2 separate regions of the Homo sapiens genome follow, and region 2 is linked to region 1. Evidence: fine-mapped QTL for protein levels in blood plasma. A gene starts in region 1. The other region holds a variant in brackets. All regions are shown on one strand. Distances are between the middles of the regions.

Region 1 (8,342 bases):
GTAATTTATAGATTCAGTGCTATTCCCATCAAGCTACCATTGACTTTCTTTGCAGAATTAGAAAAAACTACTTTAAATTTCATATGAAACCAAAAAAGACCCCATATAGCCAAGACATTCCTAAGCAAAAAGATCAAAGCTGGAGGCATCATGCTACCTGACTTCAAACTATGCAACAAGCCTACAATAACAAAAACAGCAAGGTACTGGTACCAAAACAGACATATAGACCAATGGAACAGAACAGAGCCTCAGAAATAACACCACAAATCTACAACCATGTGATCTTTGACAAATCTGACAAGAACAAGCAATGCGGAAAGGGCTCCCTATTTAATAAATAGTGTTGGGAAAACTGGCTAGCCATATACAGAAAACTGAAACTGGACCCCTTCCTTACACCTTATACAAAAATTAACTCAAGATGGATTAAAGACTTAAAGGCAAGACATAAAACCATAAAAACCCTAGAAGAAAACCCAGGCAATACCATTCAGGAGATAAGCATGAGCAAAGTCTTCATGACTAAAACACCAAAAGCAATGGCAACAAAAGCCAAAATTGACAAGCGGGATCTAATTAAACTAAAGAGCTTCTTCACAGCAAAAGAAACTATCGTCAGAGTGAACAGGCAACCTACAGAATGGGACAAAATTTTTGCAATCTATCCACCCAACAAAGGGCTAATATCCAGAATCTACAAGGACCTTAAAAACATTTACAAGAAAAAAAAATCCCATCAAAAAGTGAGTGAAGGATATGAACAGACACTTCTCAAAAGAAGACATTTATGTGATCAACAAACATATGAAAAAAAGCTCATCATCACTGGTCATTAGAGAAATGCAAATCATAACCACAATGAGATACCATCACATGCCAGTTAGAATGTCAATCATTAAAAAGTCAGGAAACAACAGATGCTGGAAAGGATGTAGAGAAATAGGAACACTTTTACACTGTTGGTGGGAGGAGTATAAATTAGTTCAACCGTTGTGGAAGACAGTGTGGTGATTCCTCAAGGATCTAGAATCAGAAATACCATTTGACCCAACAATCCCATTACCGGGTATATAAGGATTATAAATCATTCTATTGTAAAGAAACATGTACACGTTATGTTTACTGCAGCACTATTTGCAATAGCAAAGACTTCAACCAACCCAAATGCCCATCAATAATAGACTGGATAAAGAAAACGTGGCATATATACACCATGGAATACTATGCAGCCATAAAAAGGAATGAGTTCATGTCCGTTGCAGGGACGTGGATGAAGCTGGAAGCCATCACTCTCAGCAAACTAACACAGGAACAGAAAACCAAACACTGCATGCTCTCACTCGTAAGTGGGAGTTGAACAATGAGTACACATGGAAACAGGGAGGGGAACATCACACACTGGGGCCTGTCGGTGGATGGCAGGCAAGGGGAGGGAGAGCATTAGGACAAATACCTAATGTAGATGACGAGTTGATGGGTGCAGCAAACCACCATGGCACATGTATACCTATGTAACAAACCTGCACGCTCTGCACATGTATCTCAGAACTTAAAGAATAATAATAAAAATAAAAGATACCTTTTCCAATTAAAAAAAAGAAAAAAAACTCTTTAGAAGTCAATATTTTGTTTTCACAAGGGGGGATCCATTTCCTGCCCATCACTCAGGATCATTCCTGATCAAGGCCCCTCATTCATCAGGCACCAAATCACAGGCAAGAAATTGGTCTACTCTACTTCATTGCTGAAAAGAAAGCCTCCAAGAAAGAAAGAGAAAAAGCCCTTGAAGCTGCCCCTGCTTGCTAGGGATGGCCAGTGAGCTGGATGAAACAGCTGCAGAGCTTGGATATCTAAAGATTGATTTTATTTATTTCCACTGAGCCACTGAGGTTTTTCAGGTGTAGAGTAAATCCAAAGCCCATTAACTCCAAAGCCATTTTTCAAGGAAAACACAAAAATGAATAATCGCTTGCTGATAATTCCTTTAAATTCCCGCCAGAGTTATGAAATTATTCTTACTACAGAAACAATCATTAAACCACGTCAGACAAACACCTCTGAGGTCAATAATATTCCAAATTTATTCTGCCGAGAATTTTTTAAAACTTCGTATCTGCCACATGTGCAACTCAGGCATTCTTGGAAACCATCCCTGCGGTAGCATATCTTTACTTGGAAGCAGTGGGAAAACTTGGAAGAATATTTGGAGAAATATCCAGACTCTGAGGTCTTTCCAGCATTCCCAATCTGCCCTTCTTTTTTTTTTTTTTTTGAGACACAGTCTCACTCTGTTGCCCAGGTTGGAGTGCAGTGGCATGATCTCTGCCCATTGCAACCTTTGTCTCCTGTGTTCAAGCAATTCTCATGCCTCAGCTTCCTGAGTAGCTGAGACTACAAACACCATCCACCATGGCTGGCTAATTTTTTGTATTTTTAGTAAAGACAGGTTTTCACCATGTTGGCCAGGCTGGTCTTGAACTCCTGACCTCAAGTGATCTGCCTGCCTCAGTCTCCCAAAGTGCTGGGATTACAAGTGTGAGCCACTGTACCCGGCCCTATTTCCTAATAATAAAAAACAGTAACTTCTACTCACTGAGTACCTACAGTGATTTAGTCATTCTTCTAAGCAGTTTAGATACATGAACTCATTTAATTCACACGACAATTCCCTAAAGTACACATGATTAGTATCCTGCTCTTACCCTAGCAGAGAGTGGTTAAGTAAGTTGTCCATGGTATCACAGCTAGTCAGTCACAGAGCCATCATCCAAATGCAGATATCCTGAATTCAGGTTCTACATTAGACTAACCCACCAGGAATGGAGCAGGAAAGAACAGGGAAGACTCCACATTTTTGGCCTCTATTTGGTAATTATAGTTAACTTTTTAGGTAATTATAGACCAATTATCCTAGATGGGCACTTAGAGACTTTGCAGGACAGCAAGAGCTGTCTCTAATCCTGTGCCCATGACAGACATCACCAGTCAACCACAACACAGTATTTAACTAACGCAAGTCAACTCCTCAGAATCTTTAACATTCTTGTTTGTGCTACTGTACCAATCAATCAATTTGATATGAGAGTGTGCAGGAAAAAACAGGAAACAGGTTTGCAGTACCTCCACACCAGTATTCAATGCTGTAATCCGCTGCAGTGACTCCATTAAAGACTTTGCCTCCCTTATACCCTCTCCAACTAGGGTGCCTAGTGTTATGAACAAAGGGATATGTATAGGTTCTTGTGTTGCCTCTCTCTTTGATATTTTTAGCCATCAGATACCTTGTCTGCAATGTGTGCTCAGAGAGTGAGGGGGGAACTAGATGATTGATTTTCCAAATGTGTTCCCTAAATGTGTTCCCTGGGGAATAAGGGCACGAGAGGCTGCCTATTCTATTTCAAACAAATCCCCTTCACTACAGTGTATTTGATGAGTTGGGGTTTGTTTTAATTCCATTTGGAAAAGGGCTTTAGCAGCTAAGCAAATGGTTTTAAAGTGCCTCAGAAGTCAAGATTAATAGAAACTATCCAGTTCTGATGTCCTATCATGCTAAAATTTCAGGGACTAAGATTCTGTGATCATTACATTGAAACACAGCAGCAAAGCTGTGGTGTGTTGTCCTTCCTGGTTCAGAGATGCAACTATGTGCAGGGCTGCTGAGCTCTCTCTGCATCTGGGTGGGAGCCTAATGGAAGTTTTGGGGCTCCTTCCTGGTCTCCAAAATCCTCAAGACCACCATGTGAACACAGGAATCAAGGAAGGTTCTTAGATCGACTCATCCCCCAGGCCTTTGGTTTCCTTGCTCCTTTCCCCAACTACAGGTGTTTCATTTCAACTCATCCCCTAGGGCCTTGGTTTTCTTGCTCTCTTCCCCCACTACAGATGTTTAACTTCATTTCATAACCACATATTCCCCTCCTTTTCCAAGGCAAGATCCAGATGGATTAAAAAATGTACCAAGTCCCTCCTACTAGCTTGCCTCTCTTCTGTTCTGCTTGACTTCCTAGGATCTGGAATCTGGTCAGCAATCAGGAATCCCTTCATCGTGACCCCCGCATGGGCAAAGGCTTCCCTGGAATCTCCCACACTGTCTGCTCCCTATAAAAGGCAGGCAGATGGGCCAGAGGAGCAGAGAGGCTGAGACCAACCCAGAAACCACCACCTCTCACGCCAAAGCTCACACCTTCAGCCTCCAACATGAAGGTCTCCGCAGCACTTCTGTGGCTGCTGCTCATAGCAGCTGCCTTCAGCCCCCAGGGGCTCGCTGGGCCAGGTAAGCCCCCCAACTCCTTACAGGAAAGGTAAGGTAACCACCTCCAGAGCTACTAGGTCAGCAAGAATCTTTACAGACTCACTGCAAATTCTCCATTTGAAAAATAGGGAAACAGGTTTTGTGGGTGGACAAGAAATGCCTCAACCTCACATCCAGTCACTGGAAGAGCCAGAACTAGAAAGCTCCCGAGTCTTTTCCCCACATTCAAGAGGGTTGCTGGGTGCATCCATACCCAGCTATCCTTACAGTGTTTGGGAATGGGGAATGGCTCTGTCTTACTGTGGGCATGGTGGGCATTTTTGGCAGTGGGAGAGAAGGAAAATCTGTTGATTAGAAGCTCAGTATGTTAATTCGACTCCAGGACAGCTTTCAGAGACAGTGGCTAAGAGAAGAACGAGGTCCCAGGGGGATCTCTTGAGGTGACTTATTTTGACACTCTTTGGGAAAGTTATCTAGGAGATTTGTTCCATAACTCATTTTCCCATACTCTGGTGACAAATTTACTGAGTGTATCGGTCCCACTGAGCCAGTGCATAGCATGGTAACAAACAGTTCTAAATTATCAATGACTTAACAGAATTAACTAAATTAACAAAAGTTACTTTCTCACTTGTACTAAATATCTATAATGTATGGGCTCAGGCTTCTGCATTTTATACTCAGGATTCTAGACTGATGGAGAAGTTGCCCATGTGGGGGAACATTGATGGATACTGTGATAAAGCAGAAGAAAGCTCTCAGGAGTCTTGCATAGGCAATGCACTGTGGCTCAAAAATGACACCCATCACTTTGTCTCCTTCTTTATTGATCAAAACTAATTAATGCCTCCAACCAAACAAAAGTGGCCAAGAAATGCAAGTCTACCTTGTGTCTCAAAACAGAGGATGGAGAATATTTGGTGAAAATTACCATGACCATCACATGGCCACGTAGGTCTTTATAATGACAGAGCTAGCATTTGTCACATTGACCAAGCTTTGTCCATACACTCTACAGTAATGATGAGTCCTCAGTGCACAGGGGAGGATGCTGAAGACACAGGACAGCATCCTCCAGACACATAAGACTTCAGAGCAGAGGGATTCTCCCTCCACCTCTCGCAATTCCTTGCTTTCTCCTAACTTCCTTTACAAAGTCATGCTTGGAAATGTCTATGTATCATCATGTGGCTCATTTTTTTCTCTGTTCATTTTTTTTCCCCAAAATTCAGCTTCTGTCCCAACCACCTGCTGCTTTAACCTGGCCAATAGGAAGATACCCCTTCAGCGACTAGAGAGCTACAGGAGAATCACCAGTGGCAAATGTCCCCAGAAAGCTGTGATGTAAGTAAATAAAGTTCACCCTCCCCTAGACAAAAAAATAATGTCTAGGGCACAGAGTCAAGAACTGTGTCACAGTTGCTGGGAGTCATAGACTCTGATAGTTTGACCTCTATGGTCCAATTCATTAATTTTCACAAGTGAGTGTTCACTCCCAGCTCCCTGCCTGGGAGATTGCTGTAGTCATATCAATTTCTTCAAGTCAAGAGCAAAGATGGTTTTACTGGGCCTTTAAGAGCAGCAACTAACCCAAGAGTCTCATCCTTCCTCCTCTCCGTAGCAACCCTTTGTCCAGGGGCAGATGGTCCTTAAATATTTAGGGTCAAATGGGCAGAATTTTCAAAAACAATCCTTCCAATTGCATCCTGTATCTCCCACAGCTTCAAGACCAAACTGGCCAAGGATATCTGTGCCGACCCCAAGAAGAAGTGGGTGCAGGATTCCATGAAGTATCTGGACCAAAAATCTCCAACTCCAAAGCCATAAATAATCACCATTTTTGAAACCAAACCAGAGCCTGAGTGTTGCCTAATTTGTTTTCCCTTCTTACAATGCATTCTGAGGTAACCTCATTATCAGTCCAAAGGGCATGGGTTTTATTATATATATATATTTTTTTTTTTAAAAAAAAAACGTATTGCATTTAATTTATTGAGGCTTTAAAACTTATCCTCCATGAATATCAGTTATTTTTAAACTGTAAAGCTTTGTGCAGATTCTTTACCCCCTGGGAGCCCCAATTCGATCCCCTGTCACGTGTGGGCAATGTTCCCCCTCTCCTCTCTTCCTCCCTGGAATCTTGTAAAGGTCCTGGCAAAGATGATCAGTATGAAAATGTCATTGTTCTTGTGAACCCAAAGTGTGACTCATTAAATGGAAGTAAATGTTGTTTTAGGAATACATAAAGTATGTGCATATTTTATTATAGTCACTAGTTGTAATTTTTTTGTGGGAAATCCACACTGAGCTGAGGGGGACAAAGATGGCTGTGGCCAAGAGGGGCTTGGTTAAGGGGGTGGGAACTATGTCCCTGGGAAATGAGTTTTTGGCTTAGCTGGTCTTCATTGAAATGCAGGGTGAAACTGACAAACCCATTCCAGCCCTCTATTCCCATTTTCAACAGTATTTCCCAGACCCCAAACTTCAGCCACGAAAATATCTGGAGCTTTGCCACCATTCCTTTCCTCCCCACCTCATACTTGCCTCTCCTGGGACCTATTTTAACAGCCCTGTGGTATCTCCCTCTACCCGACCCTGCTCCTCGGTCTTCCAACCCAGACTAGGCAGACATGACAGACACTGGAAATCAGAGGAAGGCTAGGTGACCTTTGACCAGAGGTTTAGGTGCAGGTTTTACAGGTGTGGTGGAGCTTAAAGTGGGTCTTGTGCATGCACAAAGTGGAGAGGCTCTGCTGGAGGTATTTCAGTCTAGGTAGAGGAGAAGGGGTGTTGCTTGGGCAAAATCCAAGAAGTAGGAATGATCATGCTGCATTTACCCAGTTGGGTGGGAGCCCATCAAAAGATGTCAGTGTTGGAGTATGTGTGAAATGGTGGGGAAATTTGGAAAGAAGTTTGAGACCAGGCTGTCTAGGTGGGGAGTTTGTGCTCCATGTAAGGTGAACATATGGTTCTTCCCAGCCCAGTTAGGATGCTTTTGAGAGCAGAAAAGTGGTATTATTCATAATTATTCTGGAACAACGGATATAAATTAACACTGTCCTAAGCAAACTGGAGCATGTGGTCACTCTAGGAATAGAATGCATTGCAAGTTTTGATTCAGTGGAGAGAAGTGCCATGACCACACTATGAGGGGCTTCAGGAAGGGCAGCCAGGTGGCCATGGGCTGAATTGGGAGGAGAAGGGAGAAGCACTTAGCTCACTATTGCAGTGTATGGAAGATATGGAACTGGGGCATTGGTAGTTGGGAGGGGAGAAGATAATTGGAAGAATGGCTGAGGCAGGGTGGAATGCCAAATGTTGTGGTTGAAGAAGTAGAACCAATGACATGGAAACTTTCTAAATGCCAAAGCTGCAATTAAAGGTTAGCTTCTTAGACCCAGAAAATTAATTTCTCTCTGTCACTGTTTACTCACACCTTAACTTTACTAGCTTGAGAGCTTTCAATCAAATGGACAGGACCTCATCTTCCTGTATAAGCAACTTAAATCAGGATTCCCTTTCAGCATACAAAATCAGCTTGCGTTTCCATTGGTCACATTACCTATGTACCTGAACGCAGAGACCAACTATGTCCCCAAGGGTAGAAAAGGGTCACAGGTGCCCTGCTGGTATAACTCTGCATGGTCTAAGGCCATTGATCTGGAGGGCCAATGGCCTACTGTGTCATGCATGCCCAGCAGGGTCGCTGCATGCAAAGCTCCCAGAGGCACCATTCATAAGGCTGTCCCCCTTGGACTGTGTGGTGGCAATGGCACAAGGCAATATAAAGAACAGAATGAGACATTAGGAAGGGCACTGATCTAGGAGGCAGATGACCTCAGTTTCATCACAGACAGAGAACTGGTCTCTGTCACTGTGTTACTTTTGGCTTTAGTTACCCCATCCATAATAGGGGTATATTAATATCTTTTAAGGGATCTGACCAATGACCCACCAAGATCTCCTGTTCTGAGAGCACTACCTCTTGGAAAGCATCACTACCTCCACCCATTGAGGGAGGGAATGTTGTCAGAGGGTTCCACACTCACAAGCCCAAGTCGGACAGGGGCCAGGATAACTGGCACAC
Region 2 (8,342 bases), 98 kb before region 1:
AGATCCACCTACGACCTCAGGTCCTCAGACCCACCAGCCCAAGGAACATCTCACCAATTTTAAATCAGGTAAGCGGCCTCTTCTTACTTTCTTCTCCAACTTCTCTCACTGTTCCTCAACCACTTTCTCCTTTCCACTCTTCAATCTCTCCCTTGTCTTAATTTCAATTCCTTTCATTTTCTGGGAGAGACAAAGGAGACATGTTTTATCCGTGGACCCAAAACTCCAGTGCCGGTCACGGACTGGGAAGGCAGCCTTCCCTTGGTGTTTAATAACTGCAGGGACACCTCTCTGATTATACACCCACGTTTCAAGGGTGTCAGACCACGCAGGGATGCCTGCCTTGGTCCTTCACCCTTAGCGGCAAGTCCCGCTTTTCTGGGGAAGGGGCAAGTACTTCAACCCCTTCTCTCCTTGTCTCTACCCCTTTTCTGCTTTCCTGGGGCAGGGGCAAGTACCCCTCAACCCCTTCTCCTTCACCCTTAGCGGCAAGTCCCACTTTCCTGGGGCAGGGGCAAGTACCCCTCAACCCCTTCTCTTTCACCCTTAGTGGCAAGTCCTGCTTTTCTAGGGGGCAAGAATCCCCAATCACTTATTTCTGCACCCCAACCTCGTATCTCTGTGCCCCGACCGCTTATTTCTGTGCCCCGACCCCTTATTTCCATGCCCCGACCCCTTATTTCTGAGTCCCATCCCTTATTTCCATGCCCCGACCTCTTATCTCTGCGCCCCAACCCCTTTTCCCACTTTTCTGGAAGGTAAGAACCCCCGAACCCCTTCCCTCCGTTTCTCTACTCTCTCTTTTCTCTAGGCTTGCTTCCTTCACTATAGGCAACCTTCCACCCTCCATTCCTCCTTCTACTCCCTTGGCCTGTGTTCTCAAAAACTTAAAACCTCTTCAACTCACACCTGGCCTAAAACCTAAATGCCTTATTTTCTTCTGCAATGCCGCTTGACCCCAATACAAACTCGTCAATAGTTCCAAATAGCCAGAAAATGGCACTTTGAATTTTTCCATCCTGCAAAATCCAAATAATTCCTGTCGTAAAATAGGCAAACGGTCTGAGGTGCCTGACGTCCAGGCATTCTTTTACACATCAGTCCCTTCCTAGTCTCTGTGCCCAGTGCAACTCGTCCCAAATCTTCCTTCTTTCCCTCCCACCTGTCCCCTCAGTACCAACCCCAAGCATAGCTGAGTCTTTCTAATCTTCCTTTTTTACAGACCCATCTGACCTCTCCCTTCCTCCCCAGGCTGCTCCTCGCCAGGCCGAGCTAGGTCCCAATTCTTCCTCAGCCTCTGCTCCTCCACCCTATAATCTTTTTATCACCTCCCCTCCTCACACCTGGTCCGGCTTACAGTTTCGTTCTGTGACTAGCCCTCCCCCACCTGCCCAGCAATTTACTCTTAAAAAGGTGGCTGGAGCCAAAGGCATAGTCAAGGTTAATGCTCCTTTTTCTTTATCCCAAATCAGATAGCGTTTAGGCTTTTTCATCAAATATAAAAATCCAGCCCAGTTCATTGCTCGTTTGGCAGCAACGCTGAGACGCTTTACAGCCCTAGACCCTAAAAGGTCAAAAGGCCATCTTATTCTCAATATACATTTTATTACCCAAATCTGCTCCCGACATTAAATAAAACTCCAAAAATTGGAATCTGGCCCTCAAACCCCACAACAGGACTTAATTAACCTCACCTTCAAGGTGTACAATAACAGAAAAAAGTTACAATTCCTTGCCTCCACTGTGAGACAAACCCCAGCCACATCTCCAGCACACAAGAACTTCCAAACGCCTGAACCGCAGCAGCCAGGCATTCCTCCAGAACCTCCTCCCCCAGGAGCTTGCTACATGTGCGGGAAATCTGGCCACTGGGCCAAGGAATGCCCGCAGCCTGGGATTCCTCCTAAGCCGCGTCCCATCTGTGTGGGACCCCACTGAAAATCAGACTGTTCAACTCACCTGGCAGCCACTCCCAGAGCCCCTGGAACTCTGGCCCAAGGCTCTCTGACTGACTCCTTCCCAGATCTTCTTGGCTTAGCGGCTGAAGACTGACACTGCCCAATCACCTCGGAAGCCCCCTAGACCATCACAGACGCCGAGCTTCGGGTAACTCTCACAGTGGAAGGTAAACCCGTCCCCTTCTTAATCAATACGGAGGCTACCCACTCCACATTACCTTCTTTTCAAGGGCCTGTTTCCCTTGCCTCCATAACTGTTGTGGGTATTGACAGCCAGGCTTCTAAACCTCTTAAAACTCCCCAACTCTAGTGCCAACTTAGGCAATACTCCTTTAAGCACTCCTTTTTAGTTGTCCCCACCTGCCCAGTTCCCTTATTAGGCCGAGACAGTTTAACTAAATTATCTGCTTCCCTGACGATTCCTGGACTACAGCCACATCTCATTGCCGTCCTTCTCCCCAACCCAAAGCCTCCTTCGCGTCTTCCTCTCATATCCCCCTACCTTAACCCACAAGTATGGGACATCTCTACTCCTTCCCTGGCAACTGATCACATGCCCATTACCATCCCATTAAAACCTAATCACCCTTACCCCACTCAACGCCAATATCCAATCCCTCAGCACGCTTTAAAAGGATTAAAGCCTGTTATCACTCGCCTGCTACAGCATGGGCTTCTAAAACCTATAAACTCTCCTTACCATTCCCCCATTTTACCTGTCCTAAAACCAGACAAGGCTTACAAGTTAGTTCAGAATCTGCGCCTTATCAACCAAATTGTTTTGCCTATCCACTCCATGGTGCCAAACCCATATACTCTCCTATCCTCAATACCTCCCTCTACTACCCATTATTCTGTTCTGGATCTCAAACATGCTTTCTTTACTATTCCTTTGCACCCTTCATCCCAGCCTCTCTTTGCCTTCACTTAGACTGACCCTGACACCCATTAGGCTCAGCAAATTACCTGGGCTGTACTGCCGCAAGGCTTCACAGACAGCCCCCATTACTTCAGTCAAGCCCAAATTTCATCCTCATCTGTTACCTATCTCGGCATAATTCTCACAAAAACACATGTGCTCTCCCTGCTGATCGTGTCTGATTAATCTCCCAAACCTCAATCCCTTACAAAAGAACAACTCCTTTCCTTCCTAGGCATGGTTAGTGCGGTCAGAATTCTTACACAAGAGCCAGGACC[A/G]CACCGTGTAGCCTTTCTGTCCAAACAACTTGACCTTACTGTTTTAGCCTAGCCCTCATGTCTGCGTGCAGCAGCTGCCACTGCTTTAATACTGTTAGAGGCCCTAAAAATCAAAAACTATGCTCAACTCACTCTCTACATTTCTCATAACTTCCAAAATCTATTTTCTTCCTCATACCTGACGCATATACTTTCTGCTCCCTGGCTCCTTCAGCTGTACTCACTCTTTAAGTCCCACAATTACCATTGTTCCTGGCCCAGACTTCAATCTGGCCTCCCACATTATTCTTGATACCACACCTGATCCCCATGACTGTATCTCTCTGATCCACCTGATATTCACCCCATTTCCCCGTATTTCCTTCTTTCCTATTCCTCACCCTGATCACGCTTGATTTATTGATGGCAGTTCCACCAGGCCTAATCGCCACACACCAGCAAAGGCAGGCTATGCTATAGTACAAGCCACTAGCCCGCCTCTCAGAACCTCTCATTTCCTTTCCGTCGTGGAAATCTATCCTCAAGGAAATAACTTCTCAGTGTTCCATTTGCTATTCTACTCCTCCTCAGGGATTATTCACGCCCCCTCCCTGCCCTACACATCAAGCTCGAGGATTTGCCCCCACCCAGGACTGGCAAATTAGCTTTACTCAACATGTCCCGAGTCAGGAAACTAAACTATTAGACCTCTTAGTCTAAATAGACACTTTCACTGAATAAGTAAAGGCCTTTCCTACAGGGTCTGAGAAGGCCACCACAGTAATTTCTTCCCTTCTGTCAGACATAATTCCTCAGTTTGGCCTTCCCATCTCTATACAGTCTGATAACAGACCAGCCTTTATTAGTCAAATCAGCCAAGCAGTTTTTCAGGCTCTTAGTATTCAGTGAAACCTTTATATCCCTTACGGTCCTCAAGAAAAGTAGAACGGACTAAAGGGTCTTTTAAAAACACATCTCACCAAGCTCAGCCAACAACTTAAAAAGGACTGGACAATACTTTTACCACTTTCTCTTCTCAGAATTCAGGCTTGTCCTCAGAATGCTACAAGGTGTACAGGAGCCCATTTAAGCTCCTGTATAGACGCTCCTTTTTATTAGGCCCCAGTCTCATTTGACACCAGACCAACTTAGACTGTGCCCCCAAAAAAACTTGTCATCCCTACTATCTTTTGTCTAGTCATACTCCTATTCACCATTCTCAACTACTCATACATGCCCTGCTCTTGTTTATACTGCTGGTTTACACTGTTTCTCCAAGCCATCACAGATATCTCCTGCTGCTATCCCCAAACTGCCACTCTAAACTCTTGAAGTAAATAAATAATCTTTGCTGGCAGGACTATGCTGAATCTCCTTAGGCACTCTCTAATCAGATGTCCTAGGTCCTCCCAATTCTTAGACCTTTTATACCTGTTTTTCTCCTTCTCTTATTCCATTTAGTTTTTCAATTCATACAAAACCGTATCCAGGCCATCACCAATCATTCTGTACGACAAATGTTTCTTCTAACAACCCCAAAATATCACCCCTTACCACAAGACCTCCCTTCAGCTTAATCTCTCCCACTCTAGGTTCCCACGCCGCCCCTAATCCCGCTTGAAGCAGCCCTGAGAAACATCGCCCATTCTCTCTCCATACCACCCCCAAAAATTTTCGCCGCCCCAACACTTCAACAGTATTTTGTTTTATTTTTCTTATTAATATAAGAAGGCAGGAATGTCAGGCCTCTGAGCCCAAGCCAAGCCAACGCATCCCCTGTGACTTGCACATATACACCCAGATGGCCTGAAGTAACTGAAGAATCACAAAAGAAGTGGAAAGGCCCTGCCCCGCCTTAACTGATGACATTCCACCATTGTGATTTGTTCCTGCCCCACCTTAACTGAGTGATTAACCCTGTGAATTTCCTACTCCTGGCTCAGAAGCTCCCCCACTGAGCACCTTGTGACCCCTGCCCCTGCCCACCAGAGAACAACCCCCTTTGACTGTAATTTTCCATTACCTTCCCAAATCCTATAAAACGGCCCCACCCCTATCTCCCTTCGCTGACTCAGCCCACCTGCACCCAGGTGAAATAAACAGCCATGTTGCTCACACAAAGCCTGTTTGGTGGTCTCTTCACACAGACGCGCATGAAAGTCTCGATCTCCTGACCTCATGATCTGCCCTCCTTGGCCTCCCAAAGTGCTACAATTACAGGCGTGAGCCACCGTGCCCGGCCGACACTCTCTTAAATTAATCACTTTGAATAGTAAAGTTAAAAAAAAAAAATCACCAGCTCATATTAAAAAGCCATTTATGGGCTGGGCACGGTGGCTCATGCCTGTAATCCTAGGACTTTGGGAGGCCGAGATGGGCAGATCACGAGGCCAAGAGATCGAGACCATCCTGGCCAACACGGTGAAGCCCCGTGTCTACTAAAAATACACAAATTAACCAGGTGTGGTGGCGCGTGCCTGTAGTCTCAGCTACTCTGGAGGCTGAGGCAGGAGAATCGCTTGAACCCAGGAGGTGGAGGTTGCAGTGAGCCAAGATCACACCACTGCACTCCAGCCTGGTGACAGCGAGATTCCGTCTCAAAAAAAAAAAAAAAAAACTCATTCATAATCCGACCTTTACCTCCTTTACCTAAATATGTTCAGCTTCACCTGTCTCTCATTCCAGCCTGTTATTTCTCAGCTTTACTGAACTTATATCCATATTCCTCAGAGATGAATGAATTTTCATGCTTTCATGTCTTTTTTCTTCTCACCCAGAATGCTCCTTATTTTCTCTCCGAGTCGTGGACTCTATGCCTGCTCATGTGTCAAGACGTAGCTCAACTTCCAACTTCACTAAAATTATCAACCTCACGGTGGGTTCTCAGCTAGAGTTAGGCCTTCCCATAGCTCTAAATCTCTAGCACTTAACAGACAATATTTTAGATAGTTGGTTTTGCATTCATTGTCTTTATTGGAGTGAAAGCTTTCTAAAGAAAAGGAAGGTACCTAAATATTTAACAGATGTATCAATACCTAAGACTAGACTATGCAAGTGGCTCTCCTGGGTGAATTAATAAATACTCAAATAAATACTTGAATGAAGAGAAGAGCCAAGGAGCACCCACACCAGAATATTCGAGAAAAGTATTTGATAAGATCATTTTGCAAGAGTTTATGAGGTATATCCAGGAAACACATATTAAATGCTATTTGACCACAGATTCCATAAAATTATGCAGAGAACAAAAGAATTATAGATCAAGAACTTCTCCAACAGTTTCTGATGATCTGGTGAAGAAATCAATGTCCACAGTCATGAAATAATAAAAAATAATTCAATATATGACAATTATGAAATTAATTATGAAATTAATAAAATCTTATTAAATTATGAAATTAATAAAATCTGAATCAAAAATCCAAGGGGATTTTTTTATTAATTCTTGACAGAATGAAGTTAATTGGGAAGATCAAAAACAGACGAGCACAATCTCAATAAAAAATCACAGCAGGTATTTGTGTGGTAATTGATAATCTTATACTAAAATTTATATAAAAATCCAAAGACCCAGGAATAGCCAAGGCAACCTTGCAGAAGAATAAAGCTACAGGGCTTATATTACCAGTGAGTAAGATCTATTTTAAAGTTTTAGTAATTAAGACATTTTTGGTATTTGCACAAGAATAGTTAAATTGATAAATGAGATAGAATAGAGACTGGGCATGGAGGCCCATACCTGTAATCTCAGCACTTTGAGAGGTGGAGGCAGGTGGATCGCTTGAGCCCCAGGAGTTTCAGACCAGCCTGAGAAACATGTCAAGGTTCTATATCTACAAAACAAAAACAAAAACAAACAAAAAAAACACAACAATTAGCTCAGGCGTGGTGGCATGTGCCTGTAGTCCCAGCTACTCCAGAGGCTGAAGTGGGAGAATTGCTTGAGCCCAGGAGGTTGAGGCTGCAGTGAGCTGTGACTGCACCACTGCACTCCATCCTGGGTGACAGAGTGAGACTCTGTCTCAAAAAAAAAAAAAAAAATACAGTGGTTACAGTCTTCCACATACATGGCTGCCTGATTTGTGACATACAAAAAAATCATATTTGCTGCCCTTTTGTATGTGTCTTCCTCCATTCAACCTTGTTAGTGAGATTCATCCATATCGTCAAATATAGTTTTAAATCATTCATGCTCATTGCTGTGTAATATTCATTCATACAGTGTGCATCTCTTAGGCAGTGGAGAAAAGACAGGCATCTTAATCAATGGTTCTGGGTCAGTTGGATACCCATATGAAAGGATATATTTTATCCTTCTACCTCACATCATACACAAAAATCAATTGATAGCATTAGGAGATATACCTAATGTAAATGACGAGTTAATGGGTGCAGCACACCAGCATGGCACATGTATACATATGTAACAAACCTGCACGTTGTGCACATGTACCCTAGAACTTAAACTATAATTAAAAAAATCAATTGCAAGTGGATTGCACATCTAAATCTGAAGATAAGAAACATTAAGCTTATATAAGAAAACATGATTATGATATTGGAGACGACAAAGATTTCTTAAACATGTTACCAAAAATGCAACCGTAAGAGAAAAAAGTAATGTATTAGATTGTATTAAAACGTTAATGGTGTCATCAAAGGACACAAAAGAGTGAAAAGGCAACCCAAAGAGTAAAAGATGATATTTACAACATACATATCTAACAATGAACACAAATCCCAACTATATGAAGATCTCCTAGTAGTCAGTTTTTTTTTAAAGCAACTCAATAAAAAGAAGGCAAAAAACTTGAAGATACAGTTACATAGATATAAAAATGACCAATAAAGCTACAAAAATGTGTATGGCCTGATGAGTCATCATGAAAATGGAAATTCAAACCTCAGTATCACTCACACTAGAATAGCTAAATAAATAAGACAGAAAGTACTAAGTGTGGGTAAGGGTGTAGGCAACTGGACATCTTAAATACTGCTAATGGGATTGTAAATTACTACAACCACTCTGGAAAGCTATCTGTGAGTATCTGCTATAAAGAATATATACATACTCTGTGACCCAGTAATTCTACTCCCAGGAATAGATTGAACAGAAGTGCATACATATGCTCACCAATGAATTGCATGCATATGTTCACATAAGGTACTAGAACATTCATAGCAGCATTATTTGTAGTAGTTCCAAGC

Alleles and levels. Positions count from the first base shown, and alleles are read on the strand shown. Strength reflects both the effect of a copy and how common the allele is.
As copies of A replace G in region 2, the plasma level of the protein whose gene starts at base 4,134 in region 1 goes down (weak association).

What was found. A credible set is the group of variants that fine-mapping cannot tell apart. PIP is the posterior inclusion probability: the model's chance that the variant is causal. Protein levels are from antibody-based Olink assays in UK Biobank. Linkage for the fine-mapping came from a reference panel and not from the study's own genotypes, which makes the PIPs less certain.
Region 2: its variant is the best candidate, but not a certain one, in a credible set for the plasma level of the CCL11 protein (UK Biobank, PIP 0.51).

Annotation. Positions count from the first base shown.
Region 1 is chr17:34,281,609-34,289,950 of GRCh38, forward strand. CCL11 (C-C motif chemokine ligand 11) reads left to right here and starts at 4,134. Exons shown (of 3, transcript NM_002986.3): 1 at 4,134-4,276; 2 at 5,488-5,599; 3 at 5,977-6,726. The coding sequence starts at 4,201. The coding sequence ends at 6,082.
Region 2 is chr17:34,183,702-34,192,043 of GRCh38, forward strand. No RefSeq gene overlaps it. Among named protein-coding and RNA genes, the nearest start is that of LINC01989, 4.2 kb to the left of the region's middle. The variant A/G (reference allele first, on the strand shown) is at 3,156.